Homo sapiens: one gene and its partners. The protein of the gene in region 1 purifies or fractionates together with the protein of each later gene. This does not show direct contact. Each region holds a gene or a part of one and is shown in the gene's direction. Other genes may lie near its edges. The genes, in order: HMGN5, NAA40, MACROH2A2, RCC1, TOP2B, KDM5B and RAI1.

The links.
Region 2: the proteins of HMGN5 (region 1) and NAA40 purify together in Homo sapiens (affinity purification with mass spectrometry; one large-scale study listed by BioGRID and IntAct). This does not show direct contact.
Region 3: the proteins of HMGN5 (region 1) and MACROH2A2 purify together in Homo sapiens (affinity purification with mass spectrometry; one large-scale study listed by BioGRID and IntAct). This does not show direct contact.
Region 4: the proteins of HMGN5 (region 1) and RCC1 purify together in Homo sapiens (affinity purification with mass spectrometry; one large-scale study listed by BioGRID and IntAct). This does not show direct contact.
Region 5: the proteins of HMGN5 (region 1) and TOP2B purify together in Homo sapiens (affinity purification with mass spectrometry; one large-scale study listed by BioGRID and IntAct). This does not show direct contact.
Region 6: the proteins of HMGN5 (region 1) and KDM5B purify together in Homo sapiens (affinity purification with mass spectrometry; one large-scale study listed by BioGRID and IntAct). This does not show direct contact.
Region 7: the proteins of HMGN5 (region 1) and RAI1 purify together in Homo sapiens (affinity purification with mass spectrometry; one large-scale study listed by BioGRID and IntAct). This does not show direct contact.

What each region holds. Positions count from the first base shown.
Region 1 is NC_000023.11:81,195,414-81,198,913, reverse strand, and holds part of HMGN5 (high mobility group nucleosome-binding domain-containing protein 5), read left to right. Parts: intron 1-3,500. UniProt on the Homo sapiens protein: Preferentially binds to euchromatin and modulates cellular transcription by counteracting linker histone-mediated chromatin compaction.
Region 2 is NC_000011.10:63,949,002-63,952,501, forward strand, and holds part of NAA40 (N-alpha-acetyltransferase 40), read left to right. Parts: intron 1-3,236; coding exon 3,237-3,332; intron 3,333-3,405; coding exon 3,406-3,500. UniProt on the Homo sapiens protein: N-alpha-acetyltransferase that specifically mediates the acetylation of the N-terminal residues of histones H4 and H2A.
Region 3 is NC_000010.11:70,094,346-70,097,845, forward strand, and holds part of MACROH2A2 (core histone macro-H2A.2), read left to right. Parts: intron 1-1,308; coding exon 1,309-1,408; intron 1,409-3,500. UniProt on the Homo sapiens protein: Variant histone H2A which replaces conventional H2A in a subset of nucleosomes where it represses transcription. Nucleosomes wrap and compact DNA into chromatin, limiting DNA accessibility to the cellular machineries which require DNA as a template.
Region 4 is NC_000001.11:28,533,543-28,537,042, forward strand, and holds part of RCC1 (regulator of chromosome condensation), read left to right. Parts: intron 1-1,507; coding exon 1,508-1,604; intron 1,605-1,715; coding exon 1,716-1,838; intron 1,839-2,328; coding exon 2,329-2,484; intron 2,485-2,719; coding exon 2,720-2,839; intron 2,840-3,204; coding exon 3,205-3,357; intron 3,358-3,500. UniProt on the Homo sapiens protein: Guanine-nucleotide releasing factor that promotes the exchange of Ran-bound GDP by GTP, and thereby plays an important role in RAN-mediated functions in nuclear import and mitosis.
Region 5 is NC_000003.12:25,662,108-25,666,064, reverse strand, and holds the start of TOP2B (DNA topoisomerase 2-beta), read left to right. Parts: upstream 1-1,157; 5' UTR 1,158-1,767; coding exon 1,768-1,836; intron 1,837-3,957. UniProt on the Homo sapiens protein: Key decatenating enzyme that alters DNA topology by binding to two double-stranded DNA molecules, generating a double-stranded break in one of the strands, passing the intact strand through the broken strand, and religating the broken strand.
Region 6 is NC_000001.11:202,726,209-202,728,421, reverse strand, and holds part of KDM5B (lysine-specific demethylase 5B), read left to right. Parts: 3' UTR 1-2,213. UniProt on the Homo sapiens protein: Histone demethylase that demethylates 'Lys-4' of histone H3, thereby playing a central role in histone code. Does not demethylate histone H3 'Lys-9' or H3 'Lys-27'. Demethylates trimethylated, dimethylated and monomethylated H3 'Lys-4'.
Region 7 is NC_000017.11:17,796,458-17,799,957, forward strand, and holds part of RAI1 (retinoic acid-induced protein 1), read left to right. Parts: coding exon 1-2,056; intron 2,057-3,500. UniProt on the Homo sapiens protein: Transcriptional regulator of the circadian clock components: CLOCK, BMAL1, BMAL2, PER1/3, CRY1/2, NR1D1/2 and RORA/C. Positively regulates the transcriptional activity of CLOCK a core component of the circadian clock.

The sequences.
Region 1 (3,500 bases):
TGAATACCCATTCTTTCTTTCTCTTGCCTGATTGCCCTAGCCAGAACTTCCAACACTATGTTAAATAGGATTGGTGAGAGAGGGCATCCTTGTCTTGTGCCAGTTTTCAAAGGGAATGCTTCCAGTTTTTGTCCATTCAGTATTATATTGGCTGTGGGTTTGTCATAAATAGCTCTCATTATTTTGAGATATGTTCCATCAATACCTAGTTTATTGAGAGTTTTTAGCATGAAGGGCTGTTAAATTTTTTCGAAGGCCTTTTCTGCATCTATTGAGATAATCGTGTGGTTTTTGTCATTAGTTCTGTTTATGTGATGGATTACATTAATTGATTTGCATATATTGAACTAGCCTTGCATCCCAGGGATGAAGCCAACTTGATCGTGGTGGATAAGCTTTTTGATGTACTGCTAGATTCTGTTTGCCAGTATTTTACTGAGGATTTTCACATCGATGTTCATCAGAGATATTGGCCTAAAATTCTCCTTTTTTGTTGTTGTGTCTCTGCCAGGCTTTGGTATCAGGATGCTGCTAGCCTCCAGAGGCCACCTTCTTAACTATTACTGTTAACTCACTGCCTGGAAGAGTGAAAGTACTAAAAAAAAAGTTAGCAATTTTTTCATCCTAAAACACCACTTTCTTATATTACTGAAGACAACGTAGGCAGAAATACTTAAATTAGCTCTCCATTGACTATCGAACTAAACCTAAATTATGTTGCTAAACAGTTTTCACCATAATCTAGGCCCACACTATTCATACAATCTTACTTAGTGCTCCCCCAAACTAACTTCCCTATGTACGTAATCATTGTTGACTACCTGCTGCAATCATCATGCTTATGATCACTCTCATGCCTTTGCTCTTCCTGTTTCTTTCTTCACCTTCTCCCCACATTCTCATAACCTTTTCTGCCCTCTCCACTTATCCAACTCTTGCCTTTGCTAGACACAACTCAAAATCTTTATACAAATAATCAGGCAAAAGTAAGTCAGCATGATCTAGTCACCCTCCTCATTGCCAACATCAGGGCTACTGCTATTGCACTTTTCGGCCTATGCAACAGGAGACTCTTTCTTCTGTTTTTTTTTTTTCATTTTGCAAAATGAACATAATTTGTCTTATACTACCGTAGTATGACATCCCTTTCCCTTCTCAAGTGGACACTGCTATGCTCTCACCCCTCACTCAGAACTAAGAGTCTCCAGGTGAGTTATTTTCATTTGCCACACCAAAAGTAGCTGAATTTTCTTGATCAGCAAATACCCCCTCAGCAGAAGCACTCTTTATCATCACTGAGCTCTTTGGAGTTGTAATTCACCCTCTTTTCTCGCCCTGATAATTCCTCACTTTCCTCTTGAGGTCTTTGATATTTTTCATGTATTATAAAATACCTTCCAATATTTTAAATTCCCTTTATCAAGAGAGTTCCAGATCACCTATCCCCACCTTTTCCAGAAGCAGAAATTTTACCTACTTTTAAACTTTTGAGAAAGTTAAAATATTATTTACCTACAAAACACTACAAAATTATGGTGTAGAAATGTTTAATGAACTGTCTGAAAAACATTATCATGTCAACTTCATTGAATATTAAGTTTACTATTTGTAAAAATTTCATTTCATTTGAAAACAATTTGGAGTTTACATTTTTATCTCACATAAGCAGAATTCCTGTTTCTGCAGAGAAATCACTGTCGAGCATATTTTAATGAATTGCTTGTGGCTGAAAATTTTTTAAATTTTAAAACAAAGTTATACAAATTTTAGAATATGCTTAATATTTATATTTAAGTGGGATTATAAGTACATTTGCATTTTTATGTTTGATACACTGTGAAGTGGTGTGTATTAGTCTGTTTCACACTGCTATAAAGAAATACCAAAGACTGGGTAATTTATAAAGGAAAGAGGTTTAATTGACTCACAGTTCTGCATAGCTGGGGAGGCCTCAGGAGACTTACAATCATGGTGGAAGGCAAAGGGGAAGCAAGCTTGGACCTTCTCACATGGCAGCAGGAGACAGAAGAGGGAGGAGCAACGGGGGAAGAGCTCCTTATAAAACCATGAGATCAGCTGGGCACAGTGGCTCACGCCTGTAATCCCAGCACTTTGGGAGGCTGAGATGGGCAGATCATGAGGTCAGGAGATTGAGACCATCTTGGCCAACAAGGTGAAACCCCATCTCTACTAAAAATACAAAAATTAGCCAGGCGTGGTGGTGGCCGCCTGTAATCCCAGCTACCCAGGAGGCTGAGGTGGGAGAATTGCAGGGAGAGGTTGCAGTGAGCCGAGATCACGCCACTGAACTCCAGCCTGGCGACAGAGCTAAACTCCTCAAAAAACAAAACAAAACAAAAACAAAAAACAAACAAACAAAAAAAACCCATGAGATCTCATGAGAACTCATTCACTATCACTAGACCAGCATGGGGGAAACCACCCCCATGATCCAGTCACCTCCCACCTGGTCTCTCTCTAGACATGTGGGGATTATGAGGATTACAATTCAAGATGAAATTTGGATGGGGACACAAAGCGTAACCAAATCTTCCCGTTTCCAAAGTAAGAATGTCTGGAGTCTTGGTGGTCTTCAAAGAGCCTTGATTTTTAGAAGAACCAACAACATCACTCAATGATGCCCTAGTGCCCACCTTCCTGCCTCCTCTGGCAGATGGGAGACCAGTAATATAAAATTTTTTCTCTATTAACACACAACACATTAACACATAAATATGTAAATCACATACAAAATTACCGCACATTGGAGGATATACTGTTGTTCTCTTCAAGTGCCAGCAGAAGGGGAGTATCTGCAGAGGAGATAGGGTAGGTTAAGTAACAGAGTGTTATGCTTAAGAATTCTTATCCTGTCTCAGTCACCTGCTATGTAGTGATGTGCATCAGCAGGAAGCAACATTGACTCCTTACCAGAGGGAGTCCTGAAGTATTGTGTTCAGAGGTCTGATCTCATCCCAGATGGTACGTTCATGATTAGAGCCACTAGAGGGCGCCACTCAGCTATAGAAAAACAATGTGGAAGGCTTTGAAGCGCCGGACTTAAGAGATGTAATTTTTATTAGCTCTTTACAGAATTCCAGCAGAGGGATAGAATGTCATTTCATGCGTTGTCCCTGAGCAGTAACAGTAAATGGTCTCAAGGAAAAATAAGGCTCTACTCAGGAGCATCCCCTATTTCCAAAACCTTCTGATAGTTTGAGTAAGGGTTACTGCCCCACTCTTCCGTTGGGTATCACTGACTCCAGAGGAGGAGCGAATAAATTTGGTTATCATTGGAAAGAGACAGGATAGGGATAGGGTGGAATTTTAAACCCCTTAAAACCTCAGAAGTCACTCTAACCCTCTGTGATGGTTAATACTGAGTGTCAACTTGAATGGATTGAGGATGCAAAGTATTGTTCCTGGGTGTGTCTGTGAGGGTGTTGCCAAAGGAGATTAACATATGAGTCAGTGGACTGGGAGATGCTTACCCACCCTCA
Region 2 (3,500 bases), on another chromosome or scaffold:
AAGACCCTGTCTCTACAAAAAAAAAATTTTTTTAATTAGCTGGGCATGGTGGCACATGCCTGTATTCCCAGCTACTGAGAAGGCTGATGTGGGAGAATTGCTTGAGCCTGGGAGATGCAGGCTGCAGTGAGCCATGGTAGCAGCATTGCACTCTAGCCTGGGTGACAGCAAGATCCTGTCTCAAAACAAAACAAAAACCCAAAAACCAAAAATGGTTCTAATAATAGTACCTTTCTCATGGACTTGTCAGGAGGATAAGATGTAAAGTGTTAGTTCCTGCAGCATAATAAAAGCTAGATAAGTGTTTGCTGTTATTTTATTTTAAAATTTTATTTTAGATTCGCGGGGTACATGTGCAGCTGTGTAGTGGTGGGGTTGGGCATCTAGTGTACCCATCACCCAAATAGTAATCATCGTACCCAATAGGTAAATTTTCAACCCTCACCCTGTTTGCTGTTACTATTACTGATCCAGTTAACTATAGGCTCTGGAGTGAAGGCCCCCTCACGTTTTTTTCTCGTTTTGGTTTCTAAAATAGGAAGTATAATCTGCCTTACCTGAGATGCTGTTGATGAGTTGTGCTTCCAGAATGTAACATCTTGGCTTGGGGATAAACTGGGGCTCTGGGGGATTGAATTGTAGCTGGGCTTCTTAATAACTCTACTTGGAGAAGTCACTCATATTCCTCAAGCCTCATTTTCTTACCTGTCAAATAGGATGATGATGCCAAACTTGCAAGCTGTTTTTTTTTTTTTTTTTTTGAGATGGTGTCTTGCTCTGTCACCCAGGCTGGAGTGCAGTGGCGCCATCTCGGCTCACTGCAAGCTCAGCCTCCCGGATTCACGCCATTATCCTGCCTCAGCCTCCCGAGTAGCTGGGACTACAGGCACCCGCCACCACGCCCGGCTAATTTTTTGTATTTTTAGTAGAGATGGGGTTTCACCGTGTTAGCCAGGATGGTCTCGATCTCCTGACCTTGTGATCCGCCCGCCTCGGCCTCCCAAAGTGCTGGGATTACAGGTGTGAGCCACCGTGCCCAGCCAAACTTGGAAGGTTTTTTTTAAGGAAGAAAGAGAATATATGCAGCTCAGTAAGTAGCAGCTGGTATGAGGTTTTTTTTGTTTTTTTTTTTTTTTGAGACAGAGTCTCGCTCTGTGCCTAGGCTGGAGTGCAGTGGCACGATCTCGGCTCACTGCAGCCTCTGCCTCCTGGGTTCAAGTGATTCTCCTGCCTCTACCTCCTGAGTAGCTGGGACTGCAAGTACATGACATCACGCCCTGCTAATTTTTGTATTTTTAGTAAAGACGGAGTTTCGCCATGTTGGCCAGGCTGGTCCCGAACTCCTGACCTCAGGTGATCCACCTGCCTCAACCTCCCGAAGTGCTGAGATTGTAGGCGTGAGCCACTGCGCCCGGCCTGGAAAGTCTTTTGACATACTTTAGATATCCCATATTGTGATATCTCATAGTGTTTTCGTTTTTGTTTTTGAGACAGAGTCTCGCCCAGGCTGGAGTACAATGGCATGATCTTGGCTCACTGCAACCTCTGCCTCCCTGGTACAAGCAATTCTCCTGCCTCAGCCGCCGGAGTAGCTGGGATTACAGGCACCCCCCACCACGCCCGGCTAATTTTTTGTATTTTTATTAAAGATGGGGTTTCACTATGTTGGCCAGGCTAGTCTCGAACTCCTGACCTCATGATCCGCCCGCCTCGGCCTCCCAAAGTGCTGGGATTACAGGCGTGAGCCACTGTGCCCGGCCTCATAGTGTTTTCATATTCCGTATTCCCATTGACTTCCAGAAATGTGGAATAGCTCCAAAACAGGCATTGCCAGCCAAGTCTGGGCTCCTCTGGTGCCTTGAATTTTGTGTGGTTCCTGTGGTTGTGATCTTACTTTCATGTACTTTAATGGAGAATTCGTACCTGCAGGTGGGCTTTGGACATTTTATAGTTAAGATAGGTGCAGTGCTGTGTTTGGGCAGCTGTGATGGCTAAGTGGGTGATAAAGAAAGGAAGATGCTTCAGGGGCAGGGAGTTCTGAATTCATAAGGCTGAGTGTGGTGTGCCAGTCAGTAGAGGTGATGGGATTCCAGTGCGTACATCCTCTGGGGGTTGTGTCAAAGGTCACTGAAAGGTATTGATACGGGAGCTCTTTAAAGGCTTAGAGTTTGCTGACTCTAGTCCTTTCAGAATGTAGTGCTCTCTAGGGAATGTGATTTCACAGATCAGTCAAGGAGTTTAACTGTTTTTTACTTAAATTTCATTTAGAAACAGATACCTTAACACTTAGGCATTTGTGGGTTTAGAAAAACAGTGTTGGGCTGAAGCCTGCTTCACCCGGTTTTTTTTTGTTTGTTTGGAGACAGAGTTTCGCTCTCACTGCCCAGGCTGTAGTGCAATGGCACGATCTTGGCTCACTGCAACCTCCGCCTCCCAGGTTCAAGCGATTCTCCTGCCTCAGCCTCCCGAGTAGCTGGGATTACAGGCACCCACCACCATGCCCAGCTAATTTTTTTGTAGTTTTAGTACAGACGGGATTTCACCATGTTGGTCAGGCTAGTCTCGAACTCCTGACCTCAGGTGATCCATATGCCTTGGCATCCCAAAGTGCTGGGATTACAGGTGTGAGCCACCATTCCTGCCTCAATCTGTTTGATCAGCTGAGAGTATCCCCCCTGCTCAGATGAGGCAGGCAGGACTCCTGGGGCGGGGTGGGGCGTGTTGAGCCGTAGTCTTCTCGAAGGACCTAGGGTCACCCAGTGGTTTTGAAGGCGCAATTGGTAGATAAGAGGAATGGGGTCCCATGGGAGCCTAGTGAGGAGTCAGCTCAGAAATTACAGCAACAGGAAAAATGCCTAAGGGCAGGAACTAAATAACAGAAGACATGAGTGTTTATAACAAAGTACAGAAGAGACAGAAAAGGTAGAAAAAGAATAAAGAGAGAGCAGAGAGGGACAAGAAGTTTACAAAGTGCCGAGGCGGATTAGGACAGCTTGGGGAGGCAGGAAACGGGCCTTGTGGTTGGGGGGTGGGCCGTGTGGCCACAGTTGTTAATCTCAGCCTGAAAGACTTTGTTCCTGCACCTTCTCTAGTCATGCTGGGGCAGATACAGGGTTGGCTTTTCTCTGTGCAGTAACTGAGACTGGGCCTTCCTCCCTGTGATTCTGAGGGAGGAACAGCAGTGCCCTGGCAGGAGTGCTGTAACCAATTCCGTACACGTCCTGTCCTCTTCTCAGGTTGAATGTCTCCATTGAATGTAAGCGAGTGTCTGGACTGGAGCCAGCCACCGTGGATTGGGCCTTCGACCTGACCAAAACGAATATGCAAACCATGTAAGCTTGTCCCAACCAGGGGAGCCTAGTTCCTCTCGCAGCTTTCCCGTCTGACTGCTCCCAAATTCCCCAGGTATGAGCAGAGCGAGTGGGGCTGGAAGGACCGAGAGAAACGGGAGGAAATGACAGATGACCGAGCCTGGTACCTCATCGCGTGGGAAAACAGCT
Region 3 (3,500 bases), on another chromosome or scaffold:
CAGGGCTATGCATTTGAACAGTCTTCAGCAACACAACAGCAGCCCAACCAGACATGCAAATAATTCATTCCTACAAGTGTAAAGTTTACTGAGCAGACAATTTATCTACCAAGTCAACTGGGGCTGAAATAAGACACCCAAGGAAAGAGTCAGTTAATCATATCTCTGGTAGCTGAATGTTTCCATCTTGACAACACAGTAAGCCTCCATTCAAAGAATTGGGAAGAGTATGTTCTAAGAAGAGCATCGGTGTGGCTGGTTGCTAATTCGTCACTGATGAAAGCAGGGAAACAAAGAGGTGGAATTTATGTCCCCTCTCTGGCCTGTTCACTGTTACATGACGATTAGCTTTCTCTCACTTAGCTAAGGCAACATAAAGGTCTTGCTCACATGGGCCAACAATAGAGAATGCCCTCCATTCCACTCTACTGTGAACACATAGGATAGCAATTCCCAATGGTAGCCCCAAGACTGTGGTCTCCAAAGGGCAAGGGAGCCAGACACCCCCAGGTCAGAATCCCAGAGCCCATTACTTCTCTCCAGCAAGGTTATTGGCTTCAGAGCCCTGCCCCACAGATTTTGTGTTCTTCTAGGGAGAATGCAGGATGCTGAGGGGAGAAGAGAGAGCAAGCCCTGGGCTTCCTTGCAGGAGCTTCTCAGAAGATGCATCACTGAAAACTAAGGCCACCAGGGTTGGGAACCAAAGGCATGAGCTGTAAGGGAAAGAAAGAAAGGAGAGGGGGCCAGGCGCGGTGGCTCACGCCTGTAATCCCAGCACTTTGGGAGGCAGAGGCGGGTGGATCAAGAGGTCGGGAGATCAAGATCATCCTGGCTAACACGATGAAACTCCGTCTCTACTAAAAATACAAAAAATTAGCTGGGCATGGTGGCGGGCGCCTGTAGTCCCAGCTACTCAGGAGGCTGAGGCAGGAGAATGGCGTGAACCTGGGAGGCAGAGCTTGCAGTGAGCCGAGATCACGCCACTGCACTCCAGCCTGGGAGACAGAGTGAGACTCCGTCTCAAAAAAAAAAAAAAAAAGAGAGGGGAGGCCCTGTTCCTGTTCCAGGGAAGAAGAAATGGATTTGTTGCATGCTGCCAGCCCCAGAGTGGAAAGCAAATCCACTGAGCTCAAAGAGCTTATTGCAAGCCAAACACCTGGGAAACTGGAGGTTGTCACTCTCTATGCAGCCCCTATGTTGACATTGGGTATGAATAATTAAAGAGAATTAATGAATGCAAGTAAAATATGAGATTTTTCAACAGAATTTTATCTTTTCCACATTCACCACCTTTTCTTCCTAATGCAGCTGTCCTTAACCCAGAGTGACATCAGCCATATTGGCTCCATGAGAGTGGAGGGCATTGTCCACCCAACCACAGCCGAAATTGACCTCAAAGAAGATATAGGTAAGGTCCTGAGACTTCAGTAGAAGTGCCATAGAATAGGCCACTGTTCAGGCAAGTTCTTGTGAAGCTGATCATTGTCAACTGGCTGTCCCTCCGCTGGGGTCCCATGTCAAGCTCTGTCTTTATGTGTAGTTGAACAGTTTCACTAGAGAGAAGCTAACTTTGTTTTAATTCTGCATATATTTTTGAAATTTTTATTGGGGTATTGTGTAAAAGCAAATCATTAGCATAGAGCTTGATGAATTTTTCTCAAAGTGAACCCCACTTTGCAACCAGCACCAAGATCCTGAAGCAGACCCTTACCAGCACCCCAGAAGTCTCCCTCAGCCCCACTCCCAGTCAGTATTTCCTCCAAGGGTAACCACTGTCCTTTCTTATCAAAGCAGAGATGGGTTTCATCTGTCTTGAATTTTGTAAAAATGAAATCTTGTCCTCTTCTGGGTCCGACTCCTTTTGCTCAACTTAGTATTGTGAAATCTATCCATGTCGTTGAGTATGCTTGTATTCATTCATTTTCCTTGCTCTGTAGTATTACACTCTATAAATATATGACAGTTTATTGATCTATTCTACCACTGATGACATTTGGGGTAGTTTCCAGTTTGAGCTATAGTGAATAGTGCTACTATAAATATTGTTGTACATGTTTACATATATCGTAAGCTTAAATATTGAGAGTGCTATTGATAAAAGGGAAATGGACATCTAGAAAAAAATTAGATTGTCCATTAAGCTATGAGCATTGAGTTATTTTTGCCTGTGGTTTGCCACCTGTCCCACGAGTGGCAGAGGGAGCTGTTAATAGCCAGGGTGGAGGAGCTTGGGAGGGTAAGCTGTTATGGGCGCTGGAAATAACAGCATGCTAACAGTCCCCATCCCATCCATTTTTACCAAGCAGAACTGCCTTAAACTCTCCACGGAAAGGGTAAAGTGAGCAAAGAAGGGGCTTTGTCTCTAGGGTACAGGGCTTGCCTGTGAGGGAGGCAATTTGAGGTAGATGCTAGTAGTTCAGCCCTGGCTGGTAGCACCAGGGGCCCCAGGCAGCTGGACTCACTCAGGGCTTCCTCCTGGCATCAGAGGCCACTTGCTGTGCTGAAAAGGAGATAGGACAGCCCTGGGAAAAGTCAGCATTACAGAGAAACAGGTCTCCTTCCACTCTCCATGGAAGGACGCCCTCTAGTAGCCTTCATCTGGAGCTCTTTTAATAGGTGTCCTGCCTCTCACTGACACATTGCAGTGTTCATACTTTACACATTTCTATAGTAATGAAATTTTTATGTAAGAAAAATAATATGCTTCTTTTTTTTAATTGGCATGGTGGCAGAGTAGAAAGAGCACTGGTCTGGGAGCAAAAATTCACGCTCAGATCCCAGCAGTGGATTCTAAGGCCAACCGCTTCAGGGTCTTGGGAGGAGAAATGGGCTAAAGGCAGTCAGGTGGTTAAGAGGGCAGGTTCCAGGTCGGCCTGCCTGGACTGTCCCAGCTTTTCTGAATTGCTTCCTAGCTGACCTTTGGCAGGTTTCTAAACCTCCCTGAACCTCCGTTTCCTCCTCTGTAAGGGAGGATAGCAATAGTACCTGTCCCATAGGGGTGCTGTGATGGGGCTTAGCACAGTGCTGGGCTCCTAGGCAGTTAGTAATTGACAGTGGTTTTATTGCTGCTGTGTTAGGAGGAGTCCCTCCCATTACGATTCCATTTTCCACCACCATCACCCAAACTAATCATCCCAGCAGCCAAGGCCCTGTCTTACTCTTTTCAAAACATTATGTTATTATGGGAAAAGTCAAGCATACACAAAAAATAACAGAAAAGTATAATGAAACCCTATGCAATCAGATGCAATAATCACCACCCATGGCCACCTTTGTTTCAGCTCTTACCCCCTCCACATACTTCCAGACATCATTTTATCTATGAATATTTCACAATGACTTGTAACAGATAAGGGCTGTTTACTAACAACACAGCCACAATACCATTATTGTACCCTTAAAAAGATAGCAATATCAACAAATTACCAGTGTTCCAATTCCAGTTACATCATAAATGTCAAGTTTCTTAAACATTTGTTTAAGCCAGGCACAGTGGCACA
Region 4 (3,500 bases), on another chromosome or scaffold:
CTGATCACCTGAGGGGTCGGGAGTTCGAGACCGGCCTGACCAACATGGAGAAACCCTGTCTCTATTAAAATTACAAAATTAGCTGGACATGGTGGTGCATGCCTGTAATCCCAGCTACTCGGGAGGCTGAGGCAGGAGAATTGTTTGAACCTGGGAGGCGGAGGTTGCAGTGAGCCGAGATCGCGCCATTGCACTCCAGCCTGGGCAACAAGAGCGAAACTCTGTCTCAAAAAAAAAAAAAAAAAAAAAAAAAGGAAGTAATCAGAATATCAGAATTATATTTTTTTCTTTTCTTTTCTTTTCTTTTTTTTTTTTTTTTTTTTTTTTTTTTTTTTTTTTTTTTTTTTTTTTTTGAGACAGAGTCTTGCTCTATCACCCAGGTTGGAGTGCAATGACACAATCTCGGCTCAGTGCAACCTCTGCCTCTCGGGCTCAAGCAATTCTCCTTCCTCAGCCTCCCGAGTAGCTGGGATTACAGGCATGCGCCACCACACCTGGTTAATTTTTGTATTTTTAGTAGAGACGGGGTTTCACCATGTTGGCCAGGCTGGTTGTGAATTTCTGATCTCAGGTGATCCGCCCGTCTGGGCCTCCCAGAGTGCTGGATTGCAGGCTTGAGCCGCCACGTCTGGCCTCTTTTCTTTTTTCTTTGTTTTGAGACGGAGTCTCGCTTTGTCGCCCAGGCTGGAGTGCAGTGGCGCGATCTCGGCTCACTGCAAGCTCTGCCTCCCTGATTCACGCCATTCTCCTGCCTCTGTCTCCCGAGTAGCTGGGACTACAGGCGCCCGCTACAACGCCCGGCTAATTTTTTGTATTTTTTGGTAGAGACGGCATTTCACCGTGTTAGCCGGAATGGTCTCGATCTCCTGACCTCGTGATCGCCCGCCTTGGCCTCCCAAAGTGCTGGGATTACAGGCATGAGCCACCGCGCCCGGCCTCTTTTCTTTTTTAATTAGAGACGAGATCCTGCTCTGTCACCCAGGCCAGAGTGCAATGGCATCGTCTTAGCTCATTACAGCCTCAACTTCCTGGGCTCAGGTGATTTCTTCCACCTCAGCCTCGCAAGTAGCTGGTACTAGAGGCTTGTGCCACCACGCCCAGCTAATTTTTGTATTTTTTGTAGGGACGGGGTTTCACCGTGTTGCCCAAGCTGGTCCTGAGCTCAAGCGATCTGCCCACCTGGGCCTACCAAAGTGCTAGGATTACTGGCATGAATTACCATGCCTGGCCCAGAATAGTATATTGAGTGCCCATTTACTTGCCACACAGTTTCAATGATTATCAGCTTGTGGCCAGACTTGTTTATCTCTATTTGCATCCGCTCTCTGACTCCTTGATTATTTTAATGCAAGTCGCAGACCATAAATGATTTCATTCATAAGTATTTGAGTATGTGGCCTGGCTCCTGCCCACTTCTCCATCCCCATCTGGTGCCACTGCCCTTCTGGATTTCACTGGCACGGGGCAGGCAGGACTGGCTGATAAGTGCCCTGTCCCTCCCTTCTAGGACAATAACGGTGTGATTGGACTGTTGGAGCCCATGAAGAAGAGCATGGTGCCTGTGCAGGTGCAGCTGGATGTGCCTGTGGTAAAGGTGGCCTCAGGTGGGTCTGGGGGCACTTGCTCAGGGCAGGAGTTGGAGGACCTTGTTCTGGGGCTGGCCTAGCCTTGGGCCTTACAGTTGTGGCCTGCATCCCTTACCTTTTCATCCTTAGGAAACGACCACTTGGTGATGCTGACAGCTGATGGTGACCTCTACACCTTGGGCTGCGGGGAACAGGGCCAGCTAGGCCGTGTGCCTGAGTTATTTGCCAACCGTGGTGGCCGGCAAGGCCTCGGTAAGTGGCCTTGGTACCTCCAGCAGGGCAAATTGGCAGGCCACCCCCACAGTGAAGGCCAAAGGCAGGAAGGATTTGCTGTGGTCAGGCTTGCATCAGATGGGCTTGTGGTGTTGGTTAGGACTTTGGAGACAGACTGCTCTGGTAGTTTTGCCACCTACTGTCTATGGGACTCTGAACATAGTTTCTTCATCACTAAGTCTACCTACCTGTAAACCTACTTCATTAGGTTGCTGTGAAGTTAAATGAGTTAATGAGAAGAATATCAGGCAGATGGTAAGTTCCACGTAAATGATACCCGTAATGACTGTGGGAATCTGAGCAAGGCACTTGTATTCTCTTGATCTCAGTTTCCTTTTCTATAAAATAGGGATAAGAGTCCCTACTTAGCCTCTCAAGGGCTTTTATAATGGAGGAGAATTAAACTCGGGGCAGAGAGAAGCCATGTGTGTCTGTCTGTCACTGACCGTGGCTTTCCCTTTGCCTGCAGAACGACTCCTGGTCCCCAAGTGTGTGATGCTGAAATCCAGGGGAAGCCGGGGCCACGTGAGATTCCAGGATGCCTTTTGTGGTGCCTATTTCACCTTTGCCATCTCCCATGAGGGCCACGTGTACGGCTTCGGCCTCTCCAACTACCATCAGCTTGGTGAGCCCCGAGCCCAGCTTCAGGCATGACCCAGTGGCCTGCGTTCCTGTCCTGGCTCTGCCACTCATTCATTGTGCATCCTTTGCGGGGTCGTCTAACCCCTCCAAGCCAGTTTTGTCATCTGTAAAGTGAGAATGTCCATATCCTGATGGGAGGTGGCCTCACTGTGGGAGGAGATTGAGAAGGGCAGCTCTCAGAACACCTTCACCCCTGATGGCTCCGGCCTTTCCCCCAGGAACTCCGGGCACAGAATCTTGCTTCATACCCCAGAACCTAACATCCTTCAAGAATTCCACCAAGTCCTGGGTGGGCTTCTCTGGTGGCCAGCACCATACAGTCTGCATGGATTCGGAAGGTAGGGCCTTTACGTCCTTCTCTAGTTTGGGGGTGGAGTGTTCCCTGGCCTAGGCCTAGCCAGATTCCTGAGACCATGGTCCTTGGAGCCTGGGTCTGTTCCATGGGTTGTACCATACATGGGTCCATGAGAGTCACTCTCATCCTCCTAGAGTCCTGGTGTTCTTCCAAGTGTGAGTTCAATGGGGGCCCATGTAGATTCTCCTAGGCCTCCTCCAAAACTGGGAAGAGACACTGCAGATCTCCTTCTGATCGCTCTGGGAGCAGGGACACACTCCCATGGACAGGTGGACTCACCTAGCCTGCCACCCATTTTGCCTGTAGCACGCCCTCTGCTATTGCTCATCTCTCTCCCTCCTCCCATAGGAAAAGCATACAGCCTGGGCCGGGCTGAGTATGGGCGGCTGGGCCTTGGAGAGGGTGCTGAGGAGAAGAGCATACCCACCCTCATCTCCAGGCTGCCTGCTGTCTCCTCGGTGGCTTGTGGGGCCTCTGTGGGGTATGCTGTGACCAAGGATGGTGAGTGGGGCTGCCTACACTCTGTCTAGTTGGGACCTGGGGGTCATGGTTCTTACCCAATTCCCCAATAGGCTGTGATGTCCACTCTCGGGGGAGCCGAGGTACAGAGAGCAGTGTTTGTGATGGCACTTTGTTCCTGCTTC
Region 5 (3,957 bases), on another chromosome or scaffold:
ACTCTTTGGTGGCACTTCATGCCTTCAAGTACTCATTTTGGTGATCGTTGGCTCCCTTTTAGTCTGTCTCACAAGCCAGGTTATAAATGGTTTGAAATCAGGGGCCTTGTTTTTACTTTGAACCCATCGCAGAGCCTGGCACAGCGTGGCAGAGTGTGCGCCCAATAAATACTTGAGTGGAATTACACTGAAAAACAGGAAGAAGTAAAGCCATCTTCCATCTGCCAAAGACTGTGATGTTGCTGTATTGGTAATTTTCATTCTTAGAAAGCTTTAATGTGAATGAAATTATTCCTTACTGTGCATTTGAAAATTCCACTGAAAACAGTTTTAAAAATTAAGCATGCCCTCTTAGAGGCAGGGGGCACAGTTCTGGACAGATGAGAAAAGTGACAGTGACATCTCTGCATTGTTCAGAGAAGAAAGGTCAACAAAGAGTAGAAATAGAACACTCAACCCACCCTGCATTCTTTCCCTAGAACATTCTCTGTGTGTCCCTTATCATTTAAGCTTTTCATATGTAGTTTTCTTGAAACTGACCATATGCTCTTTTGGGGTGAGGGGAGGAGACGGAAGAAGGAGATGGAGAAGGTCTGAGATGATTTTTTTCGACAGCAGCGTCCACTTAGGCCCTTGGGGAGGCCGGGTCACGGGGCCTCCTTGCACCAGTGGTCTACAACGTCTTGCCTGCGGTTTACAACCGCTCTTTTAAAATAATTTCCCTTTGGGACGGCCCCCGGCTTCTTCCTGCCACCCCCATCCCCACCCCGCCCCCATCCTCATCCTTAGAGGCCCCAGGCAAACGCTTCGGATTCCCGGTTAGGTCTCAGAGTAAACAGCACGCTTGGAGGATTACAATCGACCCGAGGCCAATTCGACCCTTTCCCTTTGCCGCCCTCAATTGACCCTTGAAGCAGCCCCTGCTCTCCCTTCAAATGGAAAACCCACAGACACACACACAAACAAAAACCCCAAGTCTTCCTTTCGGTTGCTACCCGCAATGACGTTTCCCCCCTCGGGTCCCGCCCCTCCAGGGGGCTTGGAATTTTGGGATTGGCCGAGAGGCTGTGGCGACAAGGCCCGGATTGGACAGCATGGCGCTGACTGACAGCGGGGGCGGCCGCCGCGCCCTCCCTCTCTCCCCGGTGTGCAAATGTGTGTGTGCGGTGTTATGCCGGACAAGAGGGAGGTGACCGTGGCGGCGGCGGCGGCGGCTCTGTTTATTGTCCCTCTCGGTGTGTGTGTGTGAGGAAATCGGGGCTGCAGCGAGGCTAAGGCTGCCTTTGAAGCAGCGGCGGCGACCGGGACGACTACTCTGGCGACTCGAGTGGCTGGCCTTCGCGGAGTGTGAGAAGGACAAGGCACCTCTGCGTCCTCGCCACGTCCGAGCGCCTCGGGCTCCCCGGCCGCCCTCGCGGCTCGCACGCCCGGGCTTCAGCCCGGCCTGCAGCGGCGCCCGCGGGCGGGCGAGAAGGCAACGCCGCCGCTCGGCCGCCGCCGGTCGCTCCCTGCTTTCTCCTCAGCCGCCGCGCTAGGCCCGGGCGACGCGGACGCCGCGCCTCGAGTTTGAGGGCAGCCGGCGGCGCGGCCTCCTCAGCGGGCTCGGCTGGACGTCCGCTCCGGATCTTCGCGATGGGGCGCGGGGGTCGGCGCGGCTAGGAGTGCGGCGAGTGGAGCGGTGGGTGCGGAGCGGCGGGGCCCAGCGGCCCGCAGGGAGGCGGGAGCGGCGGCTGCGGCCTCAGGGCCTGTGAGCTGGAGGCACTCGCCATGGCCAAGTCGGGTGGCTGCGGCGCGGGAGCCGGCGTGGGCGGCGGCAACGGGGCACTGACCTGGGTGGTAAGTGGCTGGTCCCCGGGACGGGCGGCTGCATTGTTCCGGGCCCGCGGCGGGGGCGGAATTCCGAACGGGCGGGGGAGGGGAAAGGGAGGGAAATCCCGTCCCCCGAACGGGCGCTCCATAGGGGCCTGTGCTTGCAGAATCCTCCAGCCCGCTCCCCGCGCCTTTTCTTTCTTTCTTTCTCTGTACGTCTCTGGAAGTCCTGACTGCCAGAGCGTAATGTGTACTTGAAACTTTGGGGGGACAAAACCGCGAACGTAACATACAGCCCCCGCTTCCTCTCTTTTCTTTTTAACCAGACTCTTCCGGGGCAGCCGAACCTGAAATGGTGGGGATGGCGATAATGCAAGTGTGTCTGTGTGGGGCAGCATTTTCTCCAAATGTAGTTCAAGAAAACCCTGGGAAAAGGGGTGTGTGTGTGTGTGTATTCTAAATGCAGCTCTTTCTGGGGCTTTAATCTCAAAGAAGAATGCATTGGGATTTCTACAGCAACTTGCACTTCAATTTGGAAAGCCTCATTCAATGCGCTCAATTGAGAGCGCATTGGGGATGACTTTCACAGCAGTTAATACTGTAGGTCGTCCCTCTGTCAGGGTGAGATTATTAAAAGAAGTGCTTGTCTACGTCAGCATCGCAGGTGTAACGGGGTGAGGGCTGAATGGATGTCCTGGAGAGGTGACTGAAGTGCTTAGTCCTGAAGTTAAAGGATTTCGACGCTCAGTTCTTGCTGGGAAGTAGAAGTAACTGCAGCGGAAGGAGGAAGGGAGACTGGATTCCCACGACAGATCGATAATTCGCCGGCATTTCACTTGCTCAGCGTAGAGTTCAGACCAGGGTCATTTCCTATACAGAAAACCTAGGTATTTCGGAGAAAAGTAAAAAGTGTTACATTTTTCTGGACTTTTGACGGTCTGTTCCCCCGTCCCTGTTTTAAATACCTCAAGGGAGCTTTCATATAGGCATTTTTGTTACTTAGTTCGTTTTCTCTTTGTTTGGGTGAGGTTTGGGTGAGTTGAATAGCAATTTGTGCTATATTGACAACTGCTTCTTATAAAAAGGGTGCTACTGACAGCAGCAAAACATTTTAATCACTTATGTTTGCGTGCCAGGGTACATTGCAAAATAACTTGCCATGCTCTTATTGTTGAAATTCTTTGAATGTTGTATATTACTCCGATTATGTAGAATGAAAGTATGAAGGGACTAGGGCCAGGAGAGAAAATGTCAGATACTAAGTTAGTGGTCCATGTGGACTTGCAGTAGAGGGTATGTGAGAGGAAGAAGGAGGAGATGGACACATACATGCAAAATAATGACTTTCAGAATTAATGGCTTTTACCCCTGTCACTAAAATCAGACATCGGAAAATTGACTTAGACAGCCAAATGGTATTGTAAGTTCTCATTCACTATTTGGAAGTGTTGAGGCCTGATCGGTGTTTCCTCTGAAGACCTCTGGTTCTATAATGGTAAACATTTTGCTCCGTAGTGGATTGTTGGCTTTAACATTTGATAGCAGTACTTTAATTAACTGTTATATAATTTTGTAGATAATTAAATGACAATTTATTTCTTTCAAGCTCCATAGGAAACTCATTGCTAATTTAGCAAAACTTGGAGCATCTCATTCAAGATAGAAAAATCCATTTGAAACTGAAATTGACTTATTGATTAAAGGAATTTTCATTATAAAGCAGATTATGGAAAATATGGGAAATGCAGTAAAATAAAGAGAAGTGAAGATCACTTAGTGTTTTATTTATAGAGTATATCTTATGGAATTAGAAGTTTATTAAAAAGATAATCACTCCTGTAAGTCTTCTTTAAGAGTTGATGCTTACTCTAAGGTTATATGAGCATCTTTATGTCCATAATATACATCATTGATCATATAGACTGGTTTGATTTTATGGGAGGCAATATAGTGAGGTAGTTATGGGCTTTGACGTCAGGCTGATGTAGGTTCAGATACTGTCTCTCCAACACATTTAGTTGGACTTTTCCCAAGGAACCTAACCTTTCTAAGCCTGTTTTTTTATCTGTCAAATAAGGTTGCATTGAGAATGAAATGAGATAACGTGTGTAGCACAGTGCTGGGCTTAATGATGTTTGTTATTATTGG
Region 6 (2,213 bases), on another chromosome or scaffold:
CAGTGTGTTGGTGCTTTAGCGATTGATTGATGTACAGAACACAAATGTCTAGTTTCTAGTGTCACTGATGAACTAGTGATGTAGAAAAGAGACTTCTCTGTAAGTAATTGCCACAGCTGTATTTTGGCTTTCTCCCTGTCCCTTCCTTTCTCCCCTATTTTTTGGTAGCTTGTATCAAATGTTACAGTTTATATTGTGGAATAAATCCTTCGTCCTAACATAACACTAAATGCTGATTATTTAGAGCCATTAGAGCACAGCTTCTTCTGCCCCTCTACTGTTGCACAGCCAGAAGGGGCTGCTTGCTTTTGCCTCTGCCCAACCAGGTTGCAGTAGCAGTGGATGTTAGCCTGCAAACAACATTAGGGGATTCTTCTTTTGTGTCCTGCTCTGTTTGGTGGGCCATATGCCTACAGCCCTCACTAACAAAGAACCCCTCTGTCTTCAAGGACTAGAACCTATCTTTAAAGCCGTGCTCTTTTAAAATAAGCTTTCTCAGAATGTTGGCAAATCACTTCAATCCTCAAATCAGTCTTCCTTGTGGAATGCTGCCTTTATTATATTTGAATTGACAGGGGAACTTGGTTTAGGGTTAAGACGTTGGAAGGAAATCTAAGGAAAATTAATCCTCACAGAGGTCCGGGTTTAGTATATGTCTTGAGAGGAGACTTGTGAATTCCCAGACTCTGCCTCCTGGTTTCCTTTCTCATTTCTTTCTAACTGTAGCTATCATTACTGGCTGTGGATAGCCCATAGCTATTTTCCTTGCTTTTCTTTTTTAAAGGGGTCTGTTCTGCAGTGGAGAAGACATTCTGGTGACCAGACTTTTGCTTACCTTTTCCTATTCTGTTGCCAATTTTTGTTTTCCCCACATTCTATAGCCATAAACCTGAAGATGAGTAAAACTGGTGGGTCTTTAATAAAACAACAACAAAAACAGCAGTTTGTGATATAGCAGAGGTTTAAATGTACCCTCCCCTTTTATGCACTTCAAATAATTAAATCTCTTTAAGAATGACTTCTAGTTGTCTGCAGTTTTCTGCAGTTGTTGTGATGTTTCTCTTCGTCTGATGGTGGTTCTGGGGCCAATAGAGAAGAATAGTCTCCAGAGTACAATTTGGAATCATCGTGGTTTGGCCTTGTTAGTATTCAAATTCTTAGAATCCCCTCCATCACCCCCGACTTTGAGATAGGATGCCAACTGTCCCAGTCCTCACCTTCCATTGAGAAATTAAGCTTAAAAGGAGACCCTGCTGCTAATATAAAGCCACTGCCTTTAGAGAGCTTTTGCCATCTTAGTAAGCACAACCCCTACCCCCATCCCCACTAGTTTTTCTTCTTCACCTGTGGGTGGTGGTACACAGTCCCTGACAATAGCATCTTTGAGGAAGTCAGATCTTTGTATCTCTGAGTGAGTTAGAAAAGGTAGGCATGTGTGTATTTGAACCACTCCCTCCCTGGATGAGAACCACTGATCATTTTATGTGTGATGATGCTGAATTTAAAGAGAATGTCAGTTGCCCAAAGCTACACTGTACTACTAGTAAATAACAAAGCCTGGGTTTTATCTTCCAGTTTTCCTACAGTATTCCTCCTACCTTGTACACCATCACACTACTAATGAACACAGATAACGTTTACTTTCCAGTTTATGCCTTTGTTGTATCCCTAAAATGACTACAGACTGATGTGATCTAAAAACCATGTTTCATTGTGTGTTAGCTGTGAAGCTGGCCTGTACCAGAGAAACCTCTGAACTTGTAGGGGAAAATGATAAAATGCACATGGAAACTGACACTTCAGTTTCCATCTCAGTAGTCCTGCAGCTTTGTGAGGTGGGAGAGGGGAAGGGACTGTGTTAAGTTAGAGCCTGAACCAGAAGGAGGGTCAGTGGGTAAAGAAAGAAAGGGTAGATGAGGTGTGCCTTCCACCTCACCTAAATGAATACTGTTTGTTTTTTGTTTTTCCTTCCAGATTAGACTTTGGGGGATTTCTTATATAGAATAAAGGGCTTGATTATATGTAGCCTCTATCCTGGAGAAAGGTTATGTAATTTGGACTATGTAAAGGAAGTTGACTTCTTTACAGCTTCGTTTCAGTATCCTAGGAGGTGGGATTCATTTTTCTATCTTAAGTTAACCTAAAGGAGAGATGCCACTTGTGGTGATGGAGGTTGTTAAAAACCTGAATTTCCCTGCTTCATTCTCCAGTGA
Region 7 (3,500 bases), on another chromosome or scaffold:
CTGCCGTGCCACCAAGAAGCTCCTCGACAACAGCCACTTGCCCGCCACATTCAAGGTCTCCAGCAGCCCCCAGAAGGAGGGCAGGGTGAGCCAGCGGGCAAGGGTCCCCAAACCTGGTGCAGGCAGCAAGCTCTCTGACCGGCCCCTCCATGCGCTCAAAAGGAAGTCGGCCTTCATGGCGCCGGTCCCCACCAAGAAGCGGAACCTGGTCTTGCGGAGCCGCAGCAGCAGCAGCAGCAACGCCAGTGGCAATGGGGGAGATGGGAAGGAGGAGAGGCCTGAGGGTTCCCCCACCCTCTTCAAGAGGATGTCTTCTCCCAAGAAAGCCAAGCCCACCAAGGGCAATGGCGAGCCTGCCACAAAGCTCCCACCCCCGGAGACCCCCGATGCCTGCCTCAAGCTCGCCTCTCGGGCAGCCTTCCAGGGGGCCATGAAGACCAAGGTGCTGCCACCCCGGAAGGGCCGGGGCCTGAAGCTGGAAGCCATCGTGCAGAAGATCACCTCGCCCAGCCTCAAGAAGTTCGCATGTAAAGCGCCAGGGGCCTCTCCTGGTAATCCTCTGAGCCCATCCCTTTCCGACAAAGACCGTGGGCTCAAGGGTGCTGGGGGCAGCCCAGTGGGGGTGGAAGAAGGCCTGGTAAATGTGGGCACCGGGCAGAAGCTCCCAACTTCTGGGGCTGATCCGTTATGCAGAAATCCAACCAACAGATCCTTAAAAGGCAAACTCATGAACAGTAAGAAACTGTCTTCTACTGACTGTTTCAAAACCGAGGCCTTCACATCCCCGGAGGCCCTGCAGCCTGGGGGGACTGCCCTGGCGCCTAAGAAGAGGAGCCGGAAAGGCCGGGCAGGGGCCCATGGACTCTCCAAAGGCCCGCTGGAGAAGCGGCCCTATCTTGGCCCGGCTCTGCTCCTGACTCCCCGAGACAGGGCCAGTGGCACACAAGGGGCCAGTGAGGACAACTCTGGTGGAGGAGGCAAGAAGCCAAAGATGGAGGAGCTGGGCCTGGCCTCCCAGCCCCCGGAGGGCAGGCCCTGCCAGCCCCAGACAAGGGCACAGAAACAGCCAGGCCACACCAACTACAGCAGCTATTCCAAGCGGAAGCGCCTCACTCGGGGCCGGGCCAAGAACACCACCTCTTCACCCTGTAAGGGGCGTGCCAAGCGACGACGACAGCAGCAGGTGCTGCCCCTGGATCCCGCAGAGCCTGAAATCCGCCTCAAGTACATTTCCTCTTGCAAGCGGCTGAGGTCAGACAGCCGGACCCCCGCCTTCTCACCCTTCGTGCGGGTGGAGAAGCGAGACGCGTTCACCACCATATGCACTGTTGTCAACTCCCCTGGAGATGCGCCCAAGCCCCACAGGAAGCCTTCCTCCTCTGCCTCCTCTTCCTCATCCTCGTCCTCGTTCTCCTTGGATGCAGCCGGGGCCTCCCTGGCCACACTCCCTGGAGGCTCCATCCTGCAGCCGCGGCCCTCCTTGCCCCTCTCCTCCACGATGCACTTGGGGCCTGTGGTTTCCAAGGCCCTGAGTACCTCTTGCCTTGTTTGCTGCCTCTGCCAAAACCCGGCCAACTTCAAGGACCTTGGGGACCTCTGTGGGCCCTACTACCCTGAACACTGCCTCCCCAAAAAGAAGCCAAAACTCAAGGAGAAGGTGCGGCCAGAAGGCACCTGTGAGGAGGCCTCGCTGCCGCTTGAGAGAACACTCAAAGGTCCCGAGTGTGCAGCTGCCGCCACTGCCGGGAAGCCCCCCAGGCCTGACGGCCCAGCTGACCCGGCCAAGCAGGGCCCACTGCGCACCAGTGCCCGGGGCCTGTCCCGGAGGCTGCAGAGCTGCTACTGCTGTGATGGCCGGGAGGATGGGGGCGAGGAGGCAGCCCCAGCCGACAAGGGTCGCAAACATGAGTGCAGCAAGGAGGCTCCGGCAGAGCCCGGCGGGGAGGCCCAGGAGCACTGGGTGCATGAGGCCTGTGCCGTGTGGACCGGCGGCGTCTACCTGGTGGCCGGGAAGCTCTTTGGGCTGCAGGAGGCCATGAAGGTGGCCGTGGACATGGTAAGAGGCCAGCCCAGCCAGGGTGGGGAGTGTGGGGTTCCAAAGGACAGGCAGGCAGGCAGTCGGGGAGCCCCTTGTTTCTAGTGCTACAGTGTGGGCCAAATGTGTCTGCAGTCTCGGGACAATCTGCAGAGTCCTGAGCCTCTCTGGGGTGTGTGGGGGAAGTGGAGGCACCCATCTGGCTAAGGCAGGTCACACTCACCTACCCTGTCCCAGGAGACTTCCCGCCGGGGCCCGTATGCCCAGCCACCGCCACTCTCCCACTCACCTGGCATCTTCAGGCTCCAGCCCCACCCAGAATCCACTGGGCCCCTCCCCATGCTGTCACCGGAGATGCCAAGGCCCAGAGAACACGAGGACTCCCAAGATTGAACATCAGGGCTGCCCCGGGCGGTGCAAGAGCAAGTTGCCCACCCTCTGTTCCTGTCTCCATTGCCTCTGGGATGAAGCTAAGGGCTCAGGAAGACCCTCTCTGGCGACACAGGCTTGGTGCATGGACCCAGTCACAGGGTTCCTCCCTCTGCAGGACAGTCCATGGGGTCACACAGTCACAACAGGCAGGGCGGGGCAGATCCAGACCCTCTCACCATTGGCTCTGAGACCAGCTTTGGAAGCCATAGTCACTGAGCACCAACATGAGAGAGGGAACTCTGGGGCTGTGCCGCCATGCACCTTTGGGGCTGTGACCTGCCCTCTCTGTGCCTCCGTCCCCTCGCCCCTAACGTGGGTATGAGGGTGCCCATGGAGGAGGGGTCGGGAGGGTTAAAAGGTGGGCACCTCTGAGCCCACCGAGCACAGCAGCCCTGTGATAGTCAGTGCAGAGGGGCCTGGTGGCTCTGGTGACAGCAGGGTGACGTTCTTCGTGGTGTCACCACTTCCCCAGTACCATAGAGTACCTCTGTGCCCTTCTGAGGGAGGGGTCAGTGGGGGCGGTGGGGTGCACCTCTCCCCCGGGGCCATGCTTCTGCCCCCACATTCAACCCCGACTCCACTGCCTCATCCAGACTTCCGTGGAGTGACGCTCCCGGCTCTCAGCGCTGTGTGGTGGCTCTCAGTGGGGACGCCTGCAGCCTTCTCTGGCCCCTGCCCTGAGTCCCATCCCCTCCACTCCTTCCTTCAACCCACTATGTGCGGCTGAGGTCACAGGGGAGCCAGAGGGGCTTGGCAGGGGTCTCCAGAGGCCCTGGACAAACACTGCCTGCATCTGAGTGATTCAGTGACCCAGCACAGTGGCCCCAGCCGGTGGCTTCGCCCCTCCCCCTGCCCAGCCTCCTCCCCCGTCGCTGCACTGCCCACCTGCTCCTCGCAGTACACCCCTGCAGCCCCTCTGAGCAGCCCCTGCTCCTGACAGTTGCCGTGGCATTGCCTGGCCAAACCAAGGTCCCGGTGGGGGCCCACTGTGTTTGCCACCCACGCCTCCTAGTGTGTGTCTTGGGCACCTGCT